Regions from separate parts of the Homo sapiens genome. Here region 1 is linked to region 2. Evidence: fine-mapped QTL for protein levels in blood plasma. Region 2 holds a variant in brackets. A gene starts in the other region. All regions are shown on their reverse strands.

Region 1 (5,059 bases), not on the chromosome of region 2:
CTCTGCTTCCCAGGTTCAAGTGATTCTCCTTCTTCAGCTTCCCACATAGCTGGGATTACAGGCGCGCACCACCAAGCCTAGCTAATTTTTGTATTTTTAGTAGAGACGGGGTTTCACCATGTTGGCCAGGCTGGTCTCGAATTCCTGACCTCAGGTGATCCGCCCGCGTCAGCCTCCCAAAGTGCTGGGATTACAGGTGTGAGCCACAGCGCCTGGCCTGCCTGATAACATTTTAAAGCAAAAATATTGACAACTTCCAAGTGGAGAGTGAGGACTCTCCACGTAGGTTATGAGGGGTTGGGAGGCTAATTTTGAGGTTTGAGATCTTGAAGCTAGAGAGGTTGCTAATGATGTTCAGGCGCAAGTTGTGGCTGTGACGTACATGACTGAAGCAGGATGAAAACATTCACTGGCATTGACAAATTCAAAGCCAAGGGTGTTAGAAAAGTCATCACACGGGCACCACATGACTGAAGCAGGATGAAAGCGTTCACTGGCATTAAGAAGTTCAAAGACAAGGGTGTTAGAAAAGTCATCACACCGGCACCACTGGGCATGACAGCAGTGGGCAGGGAGGCAGCAATTCAATTGCTAAAATTACTAAAGAAAACGGGAGACTGCTCTGGAAGCTAAGTGAAAGAGATATGAAACATATGTAATTACTGTAGTCCCCTAAAAACCATAGAACATAGAACATATACAAACATAACTATTGCTTTCAGATAATTTTCAAGTCCATCTCTCCATGCTACAAGTCATAGCGCAGTCTACCTCTAGAGAGAATACATATTGTAATAAATTACCCAGTTAAGACTTGGAATACTTTGCAAATCCAATAGAAGATAGAAAAGTTAGTTTCCACGATATTGCAATAAGATGCTAATAGTATTAATACGAACATATTAATTCTGGAGTATACATGGAGTATTAATACCATGCTTAATATTTAACGTGTTTTATTTTGATTACAGAATCAATGGAATACTTTTGTTTTTTGAGACAGAGTTTCGCTCTTGTTGCCCAGGCTGGAGTGCAATGGCGTGATCTCGGCTCACTGCAACCTCCGCCTCCCGGGCTCAAGCAATTCTCCTGCCTCAGCCTCCCGAGTAGCTGGGATTACAGGCACCCGCCACCATGCCCAGCTAATTTTTTGTATTTTTAGTAAAGACGGGGTTTCACTATTTTGGCCAGGCTGGTCTCGAATTCCTGACCTCAGGCGATCCACCCGCCTTGGCCTCCCAAAGTGCTGGGATTACAGGCGTGAGTCATAGCTCCTGGCCCTACTTTTCTTTTTAAATTTTTTGTTTGTTTATTTTTCTATATAGAGACGAGGTCTCACTGTGTTGCCCAGCCTGGTATCGAACCTCTGGGCTCAAGCGATCCTCCCGCTTCGGCCTCCCGAAGTACTGGGATTACAAGCGTGAGCCACCGCGCCCTGCCCAGTGGAATACTTTCAACGGTGCTTCTGCATTGACTTCCCATCTTCCAACCCATCCACAAACTGCAGCCAAAATGATGTTACTACAGTAACAACTTGGAGAAAGCAGTGTGGCTTAATCTGGAAGGAGCAGAAGCTGTGGAGTCCAAAGGACCCGTGTTCCTATCCTTGTTGTGCCACTTGACACGTTTAGCACAAGGGTCCCCACAGTGTTAGTTCACCGTCTCCAGCAATCACTATGACTCCCTGGAGGGCTGTCAAACGAAACAAAGGCGCAAACTGAGACAATTCCATTGTTTACGTAACTTTCGCCAAATCGGCTCCTTCCTACGAAATATCCAGCTCATAGAGCAGGCTGAGATGCTTTGTTGCTTTAATTCTCTTTAAGAGTCACAGCTGTCCATTTTCCACGTGCGGCTGAAGAATGGATTTCAGAGCGCTCTCCCTCCGGCAGTGTTCACCTAGTAACCCCTTCCGGATAAGGACCTGCAGCCCGGGCGCGACCCGGAAAGGGAATCCGCCCTTTTCGCCTCCTTCGCGCCAATCGCCTGGAGTTGGCGTTTCCGCAGCCGGGACACAGCCCACCCTCTAAGAGCCGCGGAGTCGGGGACGGTAGAAGGGGCCGCGCGTGCGCAGTGGCGTCCGCTGTGCTTCCGGTGCGCCGGGCGCGGACGCGGGCACGCACACACGCAAGCACGCCTCCACTTAACTCGCGCCGCCGCGGCAGCTCGAGTCCACCAGCAGCGCCGTCCGCTTGACCGAGATGCTGCGGGCCTGTCAGTTATCGGGTGTGACCGCCGCCGCCCAGGTGAGCACTGGGGCTCCCGGAGGCGCGTGAGGAGGCTGAACTAGAACCGTCAGCGAAAAACGGGGGAGCCTTGGTCGCTGCCTAGCCTCCAGGACAAAGGCGAGCCTCAGGGCCACCCTCGTCGGGAGAGGCCCGGGCGGGCAGCTAGGCAGCCACCAGGGAGTTCGCCGGACTGGGATGACTTGAGGTTATTGCAGCAGCGGGGTGGGGTGTGGAGAGTAGCGGGAGGCGCGGCTTCGTGGGCATGTAGTCCAATCAGGGCCGCGCTGCCCCCGTCCAGGACCAATCCTGGCTGCTGGCGTCTGGGTCGCCGGTTGGGCGCGCGATAGGTTTTCAGTGCTGAAGGTCGACGGGCGAGAACTACAGTTCCCGTCAGGACGAGCGGAGCGGCGGCTTGTTGCATCCTTAATAAGGAGGTGCCTGGACTTCTAGCGAGAGTCCACATTTTAGGGGTCAAGGTTGTAATTATCTGGGAGGGAGTGCCTTTCTTTTCGCAGCTGAGAACACTTCTGAGTTATTCTTAATCCAAACAAAAGCGAAAGATTTTCATTTGTGGAGCTGAAACTCCTGGTCTTCAAGGAAAGACAGGAGTCATGACCTTGTGGCTCATTTCTGAGATTAGGGCAGGGATCTGTGTCTCCAGGCGCTGGGACTACTTTGACATTCAAGGAGCCTAAATACCCAGTTACTTCTAGTTTTGCGTAATTGCCAAAGTTACTTTCTAAAATTGAAAATTAAAAAGCCTGTTTCCACTGCTCATGATTTTCAGGAAGTTGATATTTTGGCAAAATGTAGATAGCAAACCAAGTACTGTGACTCAAGCAGTAATTGAACAGAATCCCTAGGAATAGTGAGTTAGAGATCATAAAAGTCAAGCTTTGTTTTTTCAAGTTCGCTTCTCTTCCTATTTGCTGCTAGGTAACAGAAGCAGCCCCTTCCATAGGAAAGTGGAACGAACCTGTGTTAGTTTTCTATTGCTGCGTAACAAATACCACAAATTTAGCAGCTTAAAACAACACCCATGAATGACCTTACGGGTTCTGTAGGATAGAAGTCTGGGCACGGATGATCTGTGTTCTCCGCTCCAGGTCACATAAGGCTGCAAAGTATTAGCCATGCTGTGGTTCTCATTTGGAGATCAGGGTCCTCTTCCAGGCTCATGCAGTTTGTTGGCAGAATTCAGTCCCTTGCAGTTACAGGACTGAAGTACTTCTTTTCTTGCTGCCTCTTGCCAGCCACTGCTCCCAGCTTCTACAGCCTGCCTACAGTTCCTTGCCTCAAGGCCTCTAGAGGCCATTCATAACATTGATGTTTGCTTTCGTGCAGGCTACCAGGAGCTTGCCTCTCTGACTTCCAAATTTCTTTTACTTTGGTCTTTCCTCTCTAGACCCAGATTTAAAAGGCTTATGTGATTAGACCAGGCCCACCTGGATGACCTCCTTTTCAGTTAATTCAGAGTCAACTTTTTGGGATCCCATTTGGGAATTAAGAAAACTAATTAAAACTTGGTAATAAAAAATGAACCCTTTTATAGCTCTGAATCAAGATGTCTAAGCTTCTTGAAATTGCTGTCTTGTAAAATTCTTTGGTTTATTCTCACCATCTCCTTAATTCTGTAGCATTTGACATTGCTGCTTTATGAGGCTCTTTGTACTTTTGGCTTCTCTCAAGTAATATTTTGGGTCCCATCTCTCTTGTTTTCCTTTACTGAGTCTGCTTCTGCTTTGTACCTCGAAATATACACCTTCTCATCTCTTCCTGTCTCTTTATAGACTCTCTAATTTGAGATTACATCAACTCTCAGAACTTTAATCCCCAAGCAGGTGACTCTCTAGCCTCGTCGTATTTGATTGTATCAACGTATCCAGAATATCTCACTTGTCAAGATCCTTTCCACTTTATTAAACCCCATCTTTCTTTTTTTTTTTTTGGATACGGAGTCTCACTTTGTCACCCAGGCTGGAGTGCAGTGGCACAGTCATGGCTCACTGCAGCCTTGACCTCCTGAGCGCAAGCAATCCTCTTACCTCAGCCTCCTGAGTAGCTGGGACCACAGGCATGTGCCACCATCCCTGGCTAATTTTTTAAAAAATTTTTGTAGAGACGGAGTCTCTCTGTGTTGGCCAGGCTGGTCTCGAACTCCTGGGCTCAAATGATCCTCCCACTTCTGCCTCCCAAAATGCTGGGAATATAGGCACGAGCCACCGTGCCCAGCCAACCCCATCTTCTTAAATGTCTTACTGCTTTTACTGTTCCCTCCTAGAGTCCATTCTTTACTCTAGGAGGGAATAGTAAAAGCAGTAAGACATTTAGTAAAAGGCTTTTTAAAAGGCAAACATGAGGTCATGCTCTTTGGAGACATCGCATCACATTCAAAATAAAATCTAAACTGCTTACCATGGGCCCTTGATCTGACTCTTCTCATATTTCATTTTTCTACTGCCTCACTCAGATTCTCCTGGTAATCTCCAGCATGTGCCTCACTGCCTTTTCATCAGGTGTTTCTTTTGCCCTGAACTCTTCTCACAGGTTTGCTTAACTTATTCCCTTCAGTTAATTTCTCAAATGTCACCTTCCCTTCAGAGAGGGCATCCTGATCCAAAATAGAATTCTGACTACTCTTGCCTTCCTTGTATCACTATATCTTTACCCCATCCTACTTTGTTATACTTTGTAGCTCCTAGCACTACCTGATGTTATAATGTGTATTTATTACACAGTTTCCACCTTTAAAAAGTAAGCTCCACAATGGAACTGTGTCCATATTTACTGCTGTATTTCCAGTATTAACAATAGTCCCTGGCTCCAAGTAG
Region 2 (5,528 bases):
AGGAGAACTCAGGGAAGCCTCACAACAACAGGGGAGACAAAACCGAGGTCACTAAAAAAATATGAAGCTTCTGGCTCCTGCAGCCTCCAGACATGCCCCACACCCTCTCATTGCACACAAATGAATTCCTTTCTCTTTCCTGAGTGATCTTTGCCAAGATTCCTCTCCTCCACTTTGACACTTTGGTATATCCATGTGTGTCCATTCTGGTTCAGCCAGGGACACAGAACCAGGAAGACATCATGGCTTTTCTAGAGGGAGCTGGCTTGGGGAATCAATGGTTGGAGTAGAAAGTGTCTTTGTCCATGTGTCACAGCCCTGAGGGACACGGGAAGAAGGTCAGGAAGACAGGATGACCAGACGGCTGGAGCAACCAGTATGAACAAAGCCACTTTCTTTCCTGGTGAAGAGGGGCATTTGGAAGCCTGGTGTCCCTGTAGGGGATGAACCACACTCACCTGCCCACTGTTACTTGCCAACGAGGTGACCCGCAGAGCAGCAGATCCTGAGTCACCGACAGTGGCTGCTTCCTCCTCCAAACCCTCCAAGATCTGTCCTTCCAGGAGTGTGAACCTCAGCAGATCCGCACGTTTTCAATGGGTCCACTTAGCTAGTGTCTGTCCTCAGCCCCATCCCTGGGATCCTGTCCTGGTGCTGTGTACACTGTCACAATAGTGGTGACAGTGACAGCTGGTGCCTGCACTTTCCAGGCCAAGAAGTTTGAAAGAAGCAAGTCACAGGGCCAGCCTGGATTTGGGGCAAACACACAAATTTCACTCTGTGGGGAAGTGCTGGGAAGCAGCCTTGAGTCCTCCTCAGCTCACGTGTGGCTGCTGCTTCTCATCCCAGGTGGGACACATGAGCCCTCCCCATGCCCAGGATGGAGCTGTTTCAGTCACAGCAGGATGGGAATGTGTCTTCTCTATGGGGGCTTTTGAAGCACAGCTCTCCTGTTCCTGAGATTTGAGATTTATAAAGACAAGTCCCACAGAGTGAACCTGCACAAATAAGACAGTACAGGATCCCCAGGAGAGACATCCCATATGAGAAGGGACAGGCAGGTCCCATCACTGACGCTGGTCCTCAGAAACCCTGACCAGCTACTGACCTTCCCAGGTCCCCTGTTCCTGGAACAGTTCGTGTGTCTGCTCCTGAAAAGATGCCCATCAAGAGTCCCCAGGGTTCTGCCCCCTTCCTTGATGTGCCTCTGGGAGTGGGGCTGGCTGGGCTGTGGGTCTGGCGTGACCCTCTCCACAGGTCAGCGGCTCAGTGCAGGCTGCACCGACTCGGTGGGGCTGGGCTGTGGCTGACCCTCCCAGGGGGAGCCTGGACTCTTCTTAGGGGTATCTGCAGGATCCCAGGTTCTGGGAGAACAGGGAAGCCACAGTGTGTGCAGGGCCCCATCTCCAGTAAAGTGTTTGCTGTCGCTCTGTTGACAAGGGCATATCCCCAGGCCTAGGGGCACTGTGGGCGCACGACCAATGCGCGAGACACAGGGAGTAAGGCACAGTTCCCTCCCATTACTGTGAGGACACTAGACACAGTGTGTGTGTGTGTGTGTGTGTGTGTGTGTGTCCATTACTGTGGGGACTCTAACCACCGTGTGTGTGTGTGTGTGTGTGTGTGTGTGTGTGTGTGTATTAGGAGTTTTGCAGTGGCTTCTGAGACCCATGATTTTGTAGGTTTAGAAATTATCTGATGAGATGTTCATCCACAGGAACCGACAAGAGATTAGGTGTTCTCCCAAAGCCCCTGGAAGCTCCTGGACTCACTGTGAGTGTGGACTGATCCAGTGCTTCCGGAGCGCCACAGAAGGGGCTCCCTGGTGGTTTCATAGAATCCTTGCTTGGGGTGTTTCTGCAGAGTTCACTGGCTTTTTCCTACGACCAATTTACTATTGCAAGCGATGGCGTCAGCAGCACATGGTGTCACGTGTCACTAAAGGAGCATTCTGAGCCAGGACACAGCCACTTCATACTGGGGGGAAAATGCTCTGGGAGCCCAGACAGGAGCCTCTCTGCAGTGCAAGGGCTGGGCTGCAGGGGGCGCTCAAGGCCCACCCAGCACAGGCTCCAGCCCCAGAGCAGGTGCACAGGAGGCTGCGGATGGAGTCCCCTTAAGATCTGTGTCATTCTTCTAAAAAAATCTAAAATAAGTATTTGACAAAAACTGCTGAAGAGTCCATAAATATCCTATTCAATTGCAAGAATTTATCAATTTACACTGGAGATTTCTAACCCTGCTACATATCTTAATAGTAAGCATCTGGAGGTCAATTAAGCTTTTATTTTATATAAATAAGTGCAACTTTTGGAGAAACACACTCATCCCCCAAATAACACATTCATGTATTAAAGCCTAGAAATACTTTAAATTACCTCTGAGCTATTCAAGTGTGGGTTCCCAGTGAAGTCCTGTTCTAGGGAAAATTGTTCTCCAGTGGGAGAAGCTCTGTCAACATACAGCTTAGGGATATGGCAGGGCACACATGGCCTCTAAGGGGATTATAGCTTGAACCCTTAGCATCCTCCTGTTGGGTAATCCATGTGTCATCTCTCCACTCTTTCTCATGCTGTGTTAGGTATGAAATAGCATCGCTCATGAATATGCAAATAACTGAGATGACTATAGATATCTTTGTGCCCTGAGAGCATCACCCAACAACCACATCCCTCCTCAGAAGCCCCCAGAGCACAACGCCT[C/T]ACCATGGACTGGACCTGGAGGATCCTCTTTTTGGTGGCAGCAGCCACAGGTAAGGGGCTGCCAAATCCCAGTGAGGAGGAAGGGATCGAGGCCAGTCAAGGGGAATTCCATCCACTCCTGTGTCTTCTCTACAGGTGCCCACTCCCAGGTCCAGCTTGTGCAGTCTGGGGCTGAGGTGAAGAAGCCTGGGGCCTCAGTGAAGGTTTCCTGCAAGGCTTCTGGATACACCTTCACTAGCTATGCTATGCATTGGGTGCGCCAGGCCCCCGGACAAAGGCTTGAGTGGATGGGATGGATCAACGCTGGCAATGGTAACACAAAATATTCACAGAAGTTCCAGGGCAGAGTCACCATTACCAGGGACACATCCGCGAGCACAGCCTACATGGAGCTGAGCAGCCTGAGATCTGAAGACACGGCTGTGTATTACTGTGCGAGAGACACAGTGTGAAAACCCACATCCTGAGAGTGTCAGAAACCCCAGGGGGGAAGCAGCTGTGCTGGCATGGAGGAAATGACAAAGATTATTAGATTGAAGACTTTCTCAGAAAATGATATTAAGTCATTAAGGAAAAGGAACAATATAAACATGTATTTGAGAAATTTTAATTATTTGAGAGATTTTTCATACAATATTTATTCTGCAAGCAAATTTCAGGGATTGAATTAATAAAACTGATACAGAACTTCCTCTGTAGGTATCTGTGTAAACATCAATTTCTGAATCAGTGTTGTAAATATTTTGGAACACACACACAAATCACATTTTATCTCTACTTTTATCTCTATTATTAAAAATGCCAAAAAAACTCATTTTGTGCATGTAGCATTTTGAATTCCCACCATCAATGCATGATAGTTCTTGGTTTTCCACATTCATATTGCCATTTATCATTATGAGAATTGTGTGTTTTAACCATTCTAATAGGTGAGTAATGGTATCTAATTTTTAGTTAAATGCACATTTCCGTAATAAAAATTCACATTTAACAATTTTCATATAATTTTTGCCGAGATGCCTCTTCTCATATTTGGTTCATTTTTAACTGCATTGTTTTCTTTTGATTAGTTGTAAGTTTACTTGCATATTGATTATAAAATCATTTAACAAATTAAAAGAATTCATTTAACAAATATGTGACTTGGAAGTATTTTCTCCAAGTCTGCGGCTGTCTTTTACTCCCTTATCAGTATGTATTGCAGAAAAGTGTGTGTGTGTGTGTGTGTGTGTTTATACAAATTTAGATTTTAAAAATGTAAAATGTTATTCATCCACAGATCATGTCTTTGGTATTATATCTGAAATCTCATTATAAAATACAGTAATATCAATTACTTTTTCCATGTCTCTAATCTCAGGCTACAATCATCTCATGAGTGTTTAAGCTTCACCTACTTGATTGGAGGACTATCAACCTAACATATTTGGAATACTTCTGTAAAAAGATGTGTTCCTCTTCCTATTATTTCTTTATTTGATCACTTATTAATATGTGTATTGGTTTATGGATGTCTATTTCATACTCTGAAGAAGATCCATGCTACATTATTCATTTTATTTTTCAAACCACCATGGCTTTATTATGTGCTGGGAGCTCATTGAGTTTGGATCCTGCATCCTTACAGCTCACCTCATGCTTTTGTTTTTGAACACTTCCCTGTTTCCTGCTATTATAATAAATTCTAAACTCATTTTCTATATTATCTTTTTCATACATAGAATCAGCCATTTTTCTAAAGATTGCTTGCTTCTGATGTTAAAGAATAGTATTTAAAAAATTGTAATACTGGGTATGTGCATTGTTAATGTGGTATAAGTACTTGCAGGACCTCTCAACCAACTGGCCTAGTAAACTATGTATCTAACCTTCTGTAATGTGATTACATTAAAAATGAGAACACACTGGTCTCTCTACCCAATTATGCTACCACATGGATCTTTCTAGCCTTCCTTCCTTGACTGTCTATAACCTCTCACTGCAAAATGAGGAACCCCATCCAACCATATGCCATTTTATTACTTAGCTGCACAATTTCAGGACACATGCATAGCAGTATCAGAAATGTAAAGCTGTACCCTTGTAGGAAACATGTTTATCTACTAGAATAGAGTGCTTATGTTCAGTTTCTTTACACTTTAAACTTACAGAGTTTCCTCATTTTCAAAGTTCCTTAGGTCAGCAACTTCATTTTCCACTTTCTTCAGTGAAGTCATTTCAATGACACTGTATAATTTGATTTATTTGAAATTCTATAAAAGCCAAAACTGTAGTCAAGTAAACAACAACATATAGAGGATATTCGAGGAGTTTAGAGACTGGGTATAAAATAAGTTAAAAAGACACTGTTTAAGAAGATTAAAATTATTTTTAGTGATATGCAATGGTTCAGATATGACACAATTAATTTGTCTAAGCACATAGTTTTGTGATGGAAAATATAAACCTAAATATATACAATTAAAAAAAATTTAGCAGTTCATTAACCCAAGGATCAAATGCAGATTGTATAAAATTATCTCATTACTTATTTTGTGAGGGTGGAGATTTCATGAGATGTATGCAACAAAGAATGAGGTAATTTTCCTGATTTGCATATAAGATGTTGCCATTCACTAAAGACCTTTAATTTTTTAAATTTTTTTTTAAATCAATTTTCTATGTGACCCAGGTTTTTTCCTCTTGACAAGCAAATAACCGACAGGATTATTTTCTTTCCTTGGTTGAGAAATATTTCCCCAAACTTCAGCTCAGTTCAGGCATACACTGTCCCTGAATGGGCATTTACCCTCAGATGGGTACACACATCTGTCAACATGTGGACTC

Alleles and levels. Alleles are on the strand shown, and positions count from the first base shown. The strength of an association depends on the size of the effect and on how common the allele is.
As copies of T replace C in region 2, the plasma level of the protein whose gene starts at base 2,122 in region 1 goes down (strong association).

The links. PIP is the posterior inclusion probability: the model's chance that the variant is causal. Protein levels are from antibody-based Olink assays in UK Biobank. Linkage for the fine-mapping came from a reference panel and not from the study's own genotypes, which makes the PIPs less certain.
Region 1: IMMT starts here. The variant in region 2 is fine-mapped to the plasma level of the IMMT protein (UK Biobank, PIP above 0.99).

What each region holds. Positions count from the first base shown.
Region 1 is chr2:86,192,525-86,197,583 of GRCh38, reverse strand. IMMT (inner membrane mitochondrial protein) reads left to right here and starts at 2,122. Exons shown (of 15, transcript NM_006839.3): 1 at 2,122-2,246. The coding sequence starts at 2,202. It overlaps MIR4779 (microRNA 4779), which reads left to right and starts at 4,476; the gene lies at 4,476-4,558. RefSeq lists enhancers at 2,132-2,251, 2,272-2,451, 2,572-2,621.
Region 2 is chr14:106,002,711-106,008,238 of GRCh38, reverse strand. It overlaps IGH and IGHV1-3. Among named protein-coding and RNA genes, the nearest start is that of FAM30A, 87 kb to the right of the region's middle. The variant C/T (reference allele first, on the strand shown) is at 2,703.